Linked DNA regions of Homo sapiens. The gene in region 1 interacts genetically with each later gene. Each region holds a gene or a part of one and is shown on either strand. Other genes may lie near its edges. The genes, in order: ATG2A, ATG7 and ATG10.

Region 1 (3,650 bases):
TTTGGGTGGCTGTGGGGCCAGGCCTGACCCTGTGTGCCTCCCGGGTCCCATCCCAGATCCTGACCTTTCCTGGTACGCTGGGCTCCCAGGCCTCAGCTCGGCCCTGCGCCCATCTGCGCCACACACAGATCCTGCGCCGTGTGCCTAAGGTAACCCACCCGCTCCAGGCCACCAGGCTGTCCCCATGGCGTGTTGACCCCACCCTGGCCTCTGCCAGGGCCTCCTCTGCTGCCCAGCCCTGTCCCTCTTCCCCTGTGCTCCACATCTCTCCATGCTGGGGCCCTCAAATACCTGCCTGGCCCTTCCTATGCCAGTCTCTGAGCCTGGTCATGCCCTTGCCCTATCTCAATATGGCCCCCTGGCTGGCCTCTGTTGCTAAGAGTGGCGCATGTCGGGTGGCTTTTATAAGTAAACAAGCACATTGTGCGCGTCGGGCAAAGGTGGGGCAGGCCTTCTTAGTGCTCTCGTGGCCCCTGCCCCAGCTCTTCTCCCACTACCAGAGAGGGCCTTCCTGTCCCACCCGCTGAGTACCACTCAGCCCTCACTGACCTGAACGCCCTCGCCCTCAGAGCCGACCCCGGCGCTCAGTTGCCTGCCATTGCCACTCAGAACTGGCCCTGGACCTGGCCAACTTCCAGGCGGACGTGGAGCTGGGGGCCCTGGACCGGCTGGCCGCCCTACTGCGCCTGGCCACCGTACCTGCTGAGCCTCCAGCCGGCCTGCTGGTGAGAGGCCCCTGCCAGGGCCAGGCCGGGGGTGGGTGCAGGGCCTGGGTCCTTCGGCTCTTGGTCACAGTGGGAGGGGCTCCGACGGCTGCTCTGACCCCCAATCCTCCTGCAGACAGAGCCCCTGCCGGCGATGGAGCAGCAGACGGTATTTCGGCTCTCTGCACCCCGGGCCACGCTGCGGCTGCGCTTCCCCATTGCCGACCTGCGGCCTGAGCCGGACCCCTGGGCGGGCCAGGCCGTGCGGGCTGAGCAGCTTCGGCTGGAGCTGAGTGAGCCCCAGTTCCGGTCAGAGCTTAGCAGTGGGCCTGGTCCCCCAGTCCCCACCCACCTGGAACTCACCTGCTCCGACCTACATGGTGAGAGCCCCCGAGTGACAGAACTTGGGGCAAGAGGCCTGGCTTCTGGGAGAGATGGGCTTGGGGCTATGGAAGGGGCCCAGTCACAACCCGAGCAGTCCCTGGCCCAGGCCTTTACCAGCTCTTGGGGTCCCAGCACTGCCTGTCCCCGGCCTCCTCACCGACAAGTAGGGTGGACCCTTTGTCTCTGGCTTTCTCTGCCCACCAAGGTGTGTGTGGAGTCGGGGGCACAGCTCTGAGCCGACCTGGGCATTGGGGAAGAAATAGGAAAAGGCAGCAGTGATGACCCCCCTAATTCCCCATCCCCCTCCAGGTATCTATGAAGATGGAGGGAAGCCACCTGTCCCTTGCCTGCGTGTCTCCAAAGCCCTGGACCCCAAGAGCACTGGGCGCAAGTACTTCCTGCCCCAGTAAGTAGGGGCTCTGGACTGGGCCCAGGAGAGGAGGGTTCTGCTGGGGGTGGCAGGGGGCCAGTTTGGAACTGGGTGCCGGGGGCCCTGCAGGCCAGTAACAGGCCTGTGCCCCGGCAGGGTAGTGGTGACTGTGAACCCCCAGTCCAGCAGCACACAGTGGGAGGTGGCCCCGGAGAAGGGAGAGGAACTGGAGCTGTCAGTGGAGAGTCCCTGTGAGCTGCGGGAACCTGAGCCCTCGCCCTTCTCCTCTAAGAGGACCATGTATGAGACAGAGGAGGTGAGACTTGGCCCCACCTCTTCCCAGGACCCCCTCCCGCCCACCGCCCGGGTTCCTGCCGTAGGAGCCACCTGTGTGGCTGTGGGCCAGGGCAGCACGACCACCTGGGGTGGGCATGAGCTGACCCAACACCAGTGAGGATTTCGGCTCTTCCATTCTTTCCAGCCAGTCAGAGAGTCTTTCTGAAACGGCACTGGTGAGGGCAGGCCCCTGGGGAGCATGGGTCCTCGATTGGAAAGATCAGGTCCTGCCCCACCTGACCCGTGGATCAGCACTGTACACTTAGAAAGGCAGTTAAGGGCCAGGCTCTGCCACTTGGTGACTGTGTCATCACCCTGGGGAGTTATCTGACCTTGAAGAGTTACCTATAGATGAGTTTCTTCCCCTGGAAAATGGGCACCATGACCTGTCTTTCTCTCTTTTTTTTTCTTTTTTTTTTGAGATAGAGTTTTGCTGTGTCGCCGAGGCTGGAGTGCAGTGGCATGATCTCGGCTCACCGCAACCTCCGCCTCCCAGGCTCAAGCGATTCTCCTGCCTCAGCCTCCTGAGTAGCCGGGATTACAGGCGCGTGCCACCACGCCCGGCTAATTTTTATATTTTTAGTAGAGACGGGGTTTCATCATGTTGGCCAGACTGGCCTCTAACTCCTGACCTCAAATGATCACCCACCTCAGCCTCCCAAAGTGCTGGGATTATAGGCATGAGCCACCGCACCTGGCCTAATTTTGTATTTTTAGTAGAGACAGGGTTTCACCGTGTTGGCCAGGCTGGTCTCGAACTCCTGACCTCAAGTGATCTGCCCTCCTCACTCTCCCAAAGTGCTAGGATTACAGGCGTGAGCCACCGCGCCCAGCCTAACCATAACCTGTGTCACAGGCCTGTTGTGAGGATGAAAGAAGTTAACATACCTGAAGCCCTTAGAACAGCACAGGTGTGCCATCAGCACTGTATCTGTACGGCTATCATGCATCCCCAGTAGAGAAGGGCTCCTATGAATGAATGAATGATGAACGACAGGAGGGCAGGACTGAGACCAGAGACAGGCCCCAGCCAGCGTCTCTAAGATGACTCTCCTGCTCTTTCCACCTCACCCTGTCCAGATGGTGATCCCTGGAGACCCTGAGGAGATGAGGACGTTCCAGAGCCGGACCCTGGCACTGTCCCGCTGCAGCCTGGAAGTGATCCTGCCCAGTGTCCACATCTTTCTGCCCAGCAAGGAGGTCTACGAGAGCATCTACAACAGGTGGAGACCCGGGGCCAGCAGGGCGGGACTGGACACTGGGTGGGCCTGGCCTCCCTTACCTGCTGTCCACCCGCCTATCTCAGGATCAACAACGACCTGCTCATGTGGGAGCCTGCAGATCTGCTTCCCACCCCCGACCCCGCCGCCCAGCCCTCGGGCTTCCCCGGCCCCTCAGGCTTCTGGCACGACAGCTTTAAGATGTGCAAGTCAGCCTTCAAGCTGGGTATGAGAGGTGCTAACGCTGGGCTAGAGGGAGGACCCCCAGGTCTGGGAAGGGCCAGGCTAGCCCTTCGCGGTCTCCTTCCCAGCCAACTGCTTTGATCTCACCCCAGACTCGGACTCGGATGACGAGGATGCCCACTTCTTCTCAGTGGGGGCATCAGGTGGCCCACAGGCCGCTGCCCCTGAGGCCCCAAGTCTTCACTTGCAGAGCACCTTCTCTACACTGGTGACAGTGCTGAAGGGGCGGATCACAGCCCTCTGTGAGACCAAGGTGAGTGCAGCCCCGGGCAGGCGGGCCCCAAACTTCAGAGCTCCCATTGGCGGCAGAGCAAGACCAGCGCGAGCAGCTCCAGGTCAAGAATGTGGAGAGCAGGAGGCCTGAGTGGGCAGCGCCAGCCCACCCACGCCAGC
Region 2 (3,650 bases), on another chromosome or scaffold:
GTCAACCAGGGAACAAGCAGTCACATCCACAGTCTTCAAACTCTTATCTGTCCTTCTCATTGGTTACTTCCAGGAGCTGTTTTTCTTTTATTTTGGTTTCCTTCTGCTATAATATCCTTCACCTTCACATGCAATCTGGTGTCCATCAGCTTCAGTTTTTGAGAACGGATGCACTGGATACCAGCATTATGGGGTTTGAGAAGCCTACATGGGAGGGACAGTGACAGCTGAGAAAATGTGGGAAAGAGGAGAGAGGAAGCAATAATGCCAGGAAGATGGAGGGCAGTGTGCCTCCTTCTGAGTCCTTTTGTTACCTCCACTGATCAACAGTGTTGCCCATTTCTCTGTTCATCTGAGAGACACCCACCTGGATTTGTCTAAATCACTGTGGAGCCCTATGCCAACCAACAACTAAAATCTATGATGGTTTCCTAAAAGCTGGCTGAGTTATGAAGGCTTGCTTCTAAATAATTACATCTCTGTGGTTTTCATTTCTGGTATGTTTAAAGAATCCTGAGAAACGGGAGAAGTACTTTAAAACTGGGCCAAGCAAAGGCCTGATTTCCGATTTTCAAAATGTTTGATTTTTCTTTGTTTCTTTTCTCTTTTTTTTTTTTTTTTTGAGATGGAGTTTCGCTCTTGTTGCCCAGGTTAGAGTGCAATGGCACGATCTCGGCTCACTGCAACCTCTGCCTCCCACGTTCAAGCAATTCTCCTGCCTCAGCCTCCCAAGTAGCTGGGATTATGGGCGCCCGCCACTACGCCCAGGTAATTTTTTGTATTTTTAGTAGAGATAGGGTTTCACTATATTGGCCAGGCTGGTTTCGAACTCCTGACCTCAGGTGATCCACCTGCCTCAGCCTCCCAAAGTACTGGGATTATAGGCGTGAGCCACCACACCCGGCCTGATTTTTCAAAGATAAGAATAAAGATGGGTTCTAAAGACCACTGGACAGAAGTTTTGCTCCCAGGAAAGGCCCATATGGGCCACTCTAGTCCACTTAGCACCTTTGTACAATCAGAAAATTACACCTCTGCTTCAAGATTTTACTTCCTTTAGTTAGAGAAATGTTGTAATATACTGATTAGATTAGCTCAAGACATGGTAGCCTTCTCTGCCACTGTCATTACAAAAATGCACCCATGATACCTATGATATAAATGGAACCCCCTTTGATGTGGCCTCTTGTGCAGTGCACAGCCTGCATAACTGTATGAGGCAGCCCTAAGTAATCACAAGAGGCCAATATGGTTTCTCTAAGAAAAAGTCATGACAGAGTAACTGCATTCCTACCTTGATCAGGGAAGAATCATAGACGCAGGACATACAGGTCTCAGAAATGTCTCTCACAAGGCTGCTCTAGAAATCCCGGTAGACAAGGTGAAGATACAGGAATTGGATCCTGACATAATTAGAGGGATTAAGAACTGGTAAAATAATCTTATTCAAAGGATCTTGGTTACTGAATTAATTAATGTTAATTAGAAAGGAGCTAATAGCAGTACGTCTTTGGCTTAGTCTCTGGGCCTGTCCAATTTATTTTATTTATCCACATGAATGAATATTTATCAACATTTACTAAGTATTTCATGTGCACTGAACCCTGTGCTGGGGCTAAGAGCAGGGGGAATAGGCAAATAAACATATTCAATAAAGTATTCTTATTACCATATTTTACCAATAACTTGGATAATGATATAGATTTGCTTATCAATTTCATGACAAAAGAAGAAACAGGCAATACAAGTGACTAAAATTCAGGATAAAAAAAGATTCCAACCATCTGGAATGGCAGGCCTATTTTAACAAGATTTGAAATTTCATAGAGGTAAATCTAGGGCCCTAAATCTAAGTTCAAGAAAACAACTGGACAAGGCAGATGGTCTGCTAGACTGGAAAGGGCATAGGTTCATGAGCCAGAGAGACCTGAGTTCAAATCCTGTCTCTGCTACTTTCTAGCCACACCACCTTGGACAAGTCATTCAACTTCTCCGAGTCTGTTTCCTCTTCTGTTAGATGGGGATACCACCTACTGTGCAGAATTAGTGTGAAGATTCAACTAGAAAATGCATACATCTGGCCCATAGGAGACACTCAAAAAGCAGGACTAATATCATATTGTTTACCAATAACATGCCCGGCCAACATGGCGAAATCCCGTCTCTACTAAAAATACAAAAAAAGGGCCGGGCATGGTGGCAGGCGCCTGTAATCCCAGCTACTCGGAAGGCTGAAGCTTGAGAATTGCTTGAACCCGGGAGGCGCAGGTTGCAGTCAGCTGAGATAGCACTACTGCACTCCAGCCTGGGTGACACAGCAAGACTCTGTCTCAAAAAAAAAAAAGAAAAGAAAAGAAATGAAATTGGGGCTTCCATTAGTTATTTCTTCAATAAACAGTTATGTTACATACTTGTCCCTGTGCTACATTTCAGGGTTCAATGGCAAAAAAAAAAAAAACTATGGTCCCCACCTTTAAAGAGCTAACAATTTTGAAGCCAAAACAGACAACAAAACAGAAGAGGAATCGGAGTATAGCAATTTGGAGGTAAAACAAATACAGTATAGCCTGGCGTTTGTACAGAATGTTATAGGAGGAGGGATATCTAAATTAGACTGATGAGGCAACAGTGTTTCCTATAGAAACCCTTAAGCCAAGGTGGGGTTTTTTTGTTTGTTTGCTTTTTATTTTTTGTTTTTTGAGACGGAGTCTTGAGACAGAGTCTTGCTCTGTCACCCAGGCTGGAGGGAGGTGGCTCAATTTCGGCTTCACTGCAACCTCTGCCTCCCGGGTTCAAGCGATTCTCCTGCCTTAGCCTCCTGAGTAGCTGGGATTACAGGCACCCGCCACCATGCCTGGCTAATTTTTGTATTTTTAGTAGAGACAAGGTTTCACTATGTTGGTCAGGTTGGTCTCGAACTCCTGACCTTGTGATCCACCCGCCTCGGCCTCCCAAAGTGCTGGGATTACAGGCGTGAGCCACCACACCCAGCCAAGCCAAGGTTTTAAGAATATCCTATAGAAACCCTTAACCCAAGGTTTTAAGAACATCCAAGTAGATTCTCAACAGGGGCCCTACTGGCATGCTGGATGGAACAATTCTTTTTTGTTTAGAGCTATCCCTGCACACTGCAGAATGTTGAGCATCTCTGGCTCTCTCTCAATAAATGCAGTAATGCCCTCTGGTCAATGTCACAAAACAAAGCAAAATAAAACAGCTCCACAAACTTCTAAACCCACCCCTGATGGTTGAGAAAGGGAGGGTTAGATGACAGCACTAGCCCCATGCAAGGACCCCTGGATGAGGAGGCTAGAGGTAGGGAGTGGGGACTCTCCAGGCAAAGGGAGGAAGCTGACTCAGCTCCACATCATCAGCTGCAGAAACACCCCATGGCCTCTGCATAAGCTTAGAATTTTCTTGGCCACCTCCACATACCCATCATCTAGTGAATTTCTTTGCTCACTTCAAATCACAGCTCAATCATCACTTCTGAGGGAAGCCTTCCCTGACTCCCTCAGCTCTGGATTAGGTCGATCCTCCTGTATTCTAGTCCTCAAAGAGCACCAACTACCTTACCTTCATAGCACGTATGCAGTTATCCTCCTCAGTAGAATAAAAATTCTATGAGAAAGGAACCATGTCAGCTTCTC
Region 3 (3,650 bases), on another chromosome or scaffold:
TATTTTTTAGACTGCCTTCCTCAGGGTTATCCAGCTATGTCTGTAAAGCTTGCAGGTTGGCCAATGATTGGACAGAAATTATGCTCAAATACCTCAAGCCTATAATGCTTTTTTCTTTTGCCAATGGATGTGTACGTGGATTGGGAACACGCTAAAAACTCAAGTAGTATTCATATTGGCCTTAGCTCTTACTTCCTATCAGGCCTTCTTGTGACTCCACTGAACATCCCCTTCCCATCAGCTAGTGATGCCTGGAGAACTTATCTACCCCTTCTGTGGCTGTCTTATTTCCAGAATGTCCCCATTAAATTACTGGTAGTTTGCTGCTTGCCTCAACTGGGACTGCAACCTCTGGCTAGCAGAGCTGCAGCTTTTTTCTTTTCATTTAGTACCTATTTTGCTATTTTTATTGACAGTGCTGCTGAGCAATAGTTTTAGCTATCTGTTGGAAATCAGGCCAGCCCCTCTGGCTACACAGTTATTGGCTCTTATGGCCAGATTGCTCTGGTAAAACTTCTGTTGATGGAGTGTCTGGGGACATTGGGGAAGAGGAGGAGGGGATATGGAAGTACTTCCAGGCAAGAAGGCTTCAGATTCCCTCTGTTTCTAACTTGAAGTTTAGCAGATTATCATGAACTAAACACGTCTCAGATTTTATATTTGCCCTTGGTTGATTTCCAGGACCCAAAAATGGTTAGTTTTTGACAATTTTGTTCATTTTTATATTTAATTTCTGGGGAGAGGATTTGCTGACCTCTTTATTCTATCACAGCTGGAAGTCCACTTCTGTTGTTATTAATTTATAAAATTCTTCTAAAAGATTACATATCTTATAATTCCTATTTTAAGCTGATCAGCATATTATAGGCTTGATTCTTTTGAACCAAAAGCATTTTGCCAAAACAATATAATTTTTATTTTAAAATCCAATTTATTAATAAATTTAAACTTTTAATTTTTAAAGACCATCATTCATTTTAATATATTCTATTTAATTATATAAATATAAGGTCTCAGTATAGTAAAGGATAAAGAATTTTTTAAAGATGGCCAAACCTGCATTAAAGAAATGCTTAAGCTATTCTAAAAGCTCTTCAAAGGCATGAAAGTCTCAATTATTTTAAAAAGTGTTTTAAATGACATTGCCATGCATTTTATTCTATTAGAACATAACCTTAAATGCTAATATGACTGTTTTATGTTCTTTGAGGAAAAATGAATATTAAAATGTTGTAGATTACTGAAGTGTTTTTGAAGTACCTAAACTTTTATTTTAATTTAAATTCATTTAAATTATTTTTCATTAATTTGGTTTTAAACCTGAATACAAATATAGTGATAGTTCTAGTTGCCATATAGACCTAGACCTTTTACTAATTCAGACCTTTCTTCCTTTCACTTATAAACAGTTGTCAAATATTCCTAAACACTTAGATACTGGTCAGTGATGCTTTTAATATGCTACTTAATTTACAGGAACGTCCTATTTTTAGATTGAAATTTGGCTTTATTATAGGGTACCATAAGACTACTTTCTGAATGTCTGGCTGTTATTCTTTTCTGTTTAGATATTAATGGGTTAAATACTAATAGCCAACTAAGTGTCTGCTATGTGTCAGGTACTGTTCTATGTACTTCTGTGGTATTATCTCATTGAAGGGTCACAGTCAATCTCTGAGACAGATACTATCATTAGCCACAGTTACCAGATGAGGAAACAGAGACGTAAAATGGTTAAGTGACTTTCCCAATAGCTCACAGCTACCAAGTGGTAGAGCAGGACTTGATCTCAAACAGTCTTAACCATAGAGCTCATGCATGTGCTTACCCACTTGCTATGTGGAATGAAAAAAAGATGACTTATAGAAGTAAAGTCCATGTCTTTACAAAGCAGCATCAAATGAGCAGAGCTGCAGTGTGCCATGGTCCTAAGACTCCTCTAAGAAAATGGTCCCCTGAACTGTAAGTGCCTATCCACCTCTTAGATAAGAAAGAGATGCCAAAGGGAAAGTGAGTCTTGGAGAGAGTGGAGGCTGCGTGATTGAACTGATCCTCCCTATTAGGAGTGTTTCCGTCTAGTGGAAATTTGTAACTGTAGGTTTCATTTCATTAAAGTCAACATGTACTTTACATCAATAAGATTGGATTATACCTCTTTATTCCTTCCATTGGCAACTATGTAAGTCATCCCAAAAGAATTTAGACTACATTTATCTTTTTTAAATCCCAGCTTTCTAAACAGTCATTGTTTTAGTCCAGGATAATTCTAAATTTTTTTGCATTTTTCCTGCATATTTTCTATGCTCATTTCCCCCATAGGGTCATCTGCCCCCACATTCTGTTCCCAAATCTCTGCATGGTTGTTTTTTTCCTTGTCGTTCTGATCTTTGATTAAGTTTCACCTTATTTTAGTCCATTTAGGCTGTCATAACAAAAATACCATAGACTGGGTGGCTCAAGAACCAACACTTATTTCTCCCAGTTCTGAAGGCTACAGGATCCAGGATGAGGGCACTGGAAGATCCAGTGTCTGGTGAGGACCCGTTTCCTATTTCATAGATGCCATCTTCTCACTGTATCCCCACATGATAGGAAAAGAGTGAGAGTTACACCTCTTAGGGTGTAACCCTAAGAGGGATACACACATTCAGTCCATTGTATTACCTCTTCCTTCAGGCCTTCCCTTTCCAAGTCTAATGTCACCACAATCCCTCCAGAATCATGTTACCCTGTTGTGTTTCCTTTGTAGGGCTTATAATTATCTGGATTATCTTATTTATTCGTTCTGTGTGTTTATTGGCTGTCTCCTGCACTGAAATCTAAGTTCCATGGGATCAGGAACATTGTTTATCTAAGAGATGCAGTGGTCTCTATAACTATAGCTAGAAGTATTCTGGCAGACACATAAAAAAGATGATTGATTAATATATGTTGAATTGCTAAATATTAGTTTAAGGCAGGTAAGGGAAACCAGATTCAAGTTGGACAGGAGGACTTGGCATAGGCCCAACACATCAGGGCTTTGAGCCCAGGGCCCAGTTAGGGATGGGAATGAAGGTTGGGAAGAGAGCTGTAGAGAGGAAGCTGATGCCTTGCTGGAAGAATCAGGCGACTGGTCAGAGTCACCTGGAGATGGCACTCAGGGAGAAACAAATGCCAGGTGGTGCTAAAAATGCCAGATACATGCAATAACCTATCACTAGTGGATAACTCATCCCTCACCACCACCACCCCAAATCTCCATACCCAGTGTCACCAATACAAGAGGAATTGTCCCTTCCAGTTCTTGTGAGTGGATATGTGCATAAGCATACAGACATGAATGTTTGGAGCTGAGGGGTAGAGGCAGCAAGGACAGCCACATAATTCATCCCATCAACAGCTCTGAGTTCAGCTTCCCCTTGGGTTGGCTGAGAGAAGAAGCCAAGAGAAGAAACTAGGCATCCCCTAGTCTAAATCCAGCCTACAAGCCTGTTTTACTTGTCCCACTCCATGTTTAAAAATAAATTATGCCAACACTTAAATGTAGGAGGTTTAACATAAACTTCAGCTTTTCTAGGTTAGTTTCACAAATAGGGAGGTCTGGCATGCTGAACCTGCATTCCCACATGGGACAGTTGGCTGGAGCAGAGTAGCCAGCATGGCCTTGG

Evidence for each region.
Region 2: of ATG2A (region 1) and ATG7, changing one enhances a phenotype caused by changing the other (phenotypic enhancement), as found in Homo sapiens cells (one large-scale study listed by BioGRID).
Region 3: of ATG2A (region 1) and ATG10, changing one enhances a phenotype caused by changing the other (phenotypic enhancement), as found in Homo sapiens cells (one large-scale study listed by BioGRID).

What each region holds. Positions count from the first base shown.
Region 1 is NC_000011.10:64,907,115-64,910,764, reverse strand, and holds part of ATG2A (autophagy-related protein 2 homolog A), read left to right. Parts: intron 1-56; coding exon 57-149; intron 150-569; coding exon 570-725; intron 726-840; coding exon 841-1,084; intron 1,085-1,397; coding exon 1,398-1,494; intron 1,495-1,614; coding exon 1,615-1,774; intron 1,775-2,874; coding exon 2,875-3,017; intron 3,018-3,100; coding exon 3,101-3,240; intron 3,241-3,325; coding exon 3,326-3,510; intron 3,511-3,650. UniProt on the Homo sapiens protein: Lipid transfer protein involved in autophagosome assembly. Tethers the edge of the isolation membrane (IM) to the endoplasmic reticulum (ER) and mediates direct lipid transfer from ER to IM for IM expansion.
Region 2 is NC_000003.12:11,278,747-11,282,396, reverse strand, and holds part of ATG7 (ubiquitin-like modifier-activating enzyme ATG7), read right to left. Parts: exon of another isoform or gene 3,577-3,650; intron 1,404-3,576; 5' UTR 1,295-1,403; intron 228-1,294; exon of another isoform or gene 205-227; 5' UTR 1-204. UniProt on the Homo sapiens protein: E1-like activating enzyme involved in the 2 ubiquitin-like systems required for cytoplasm to vacuole transport (Cvt) and autophagy.
Region 3 is NC_000005.10:82,247,913-82,251,562, forward strand, and holds part of ATG10 (ubiquitin-like-conjugating enzyme ATG10), read left to right. Parts: intron 1-3,650. UniProt on the Homo sapiens protein: E2-like enzyme involved in autophagy. Acts as an E2-like enzyme that catalyzes the conjugation of ATG12 to ATG5. ATG12 conjugation to ATG5 is required for autophagy. Likely serves as an ATG5-recognition molecule. Not involved in ATG12 conjugation to ATG3.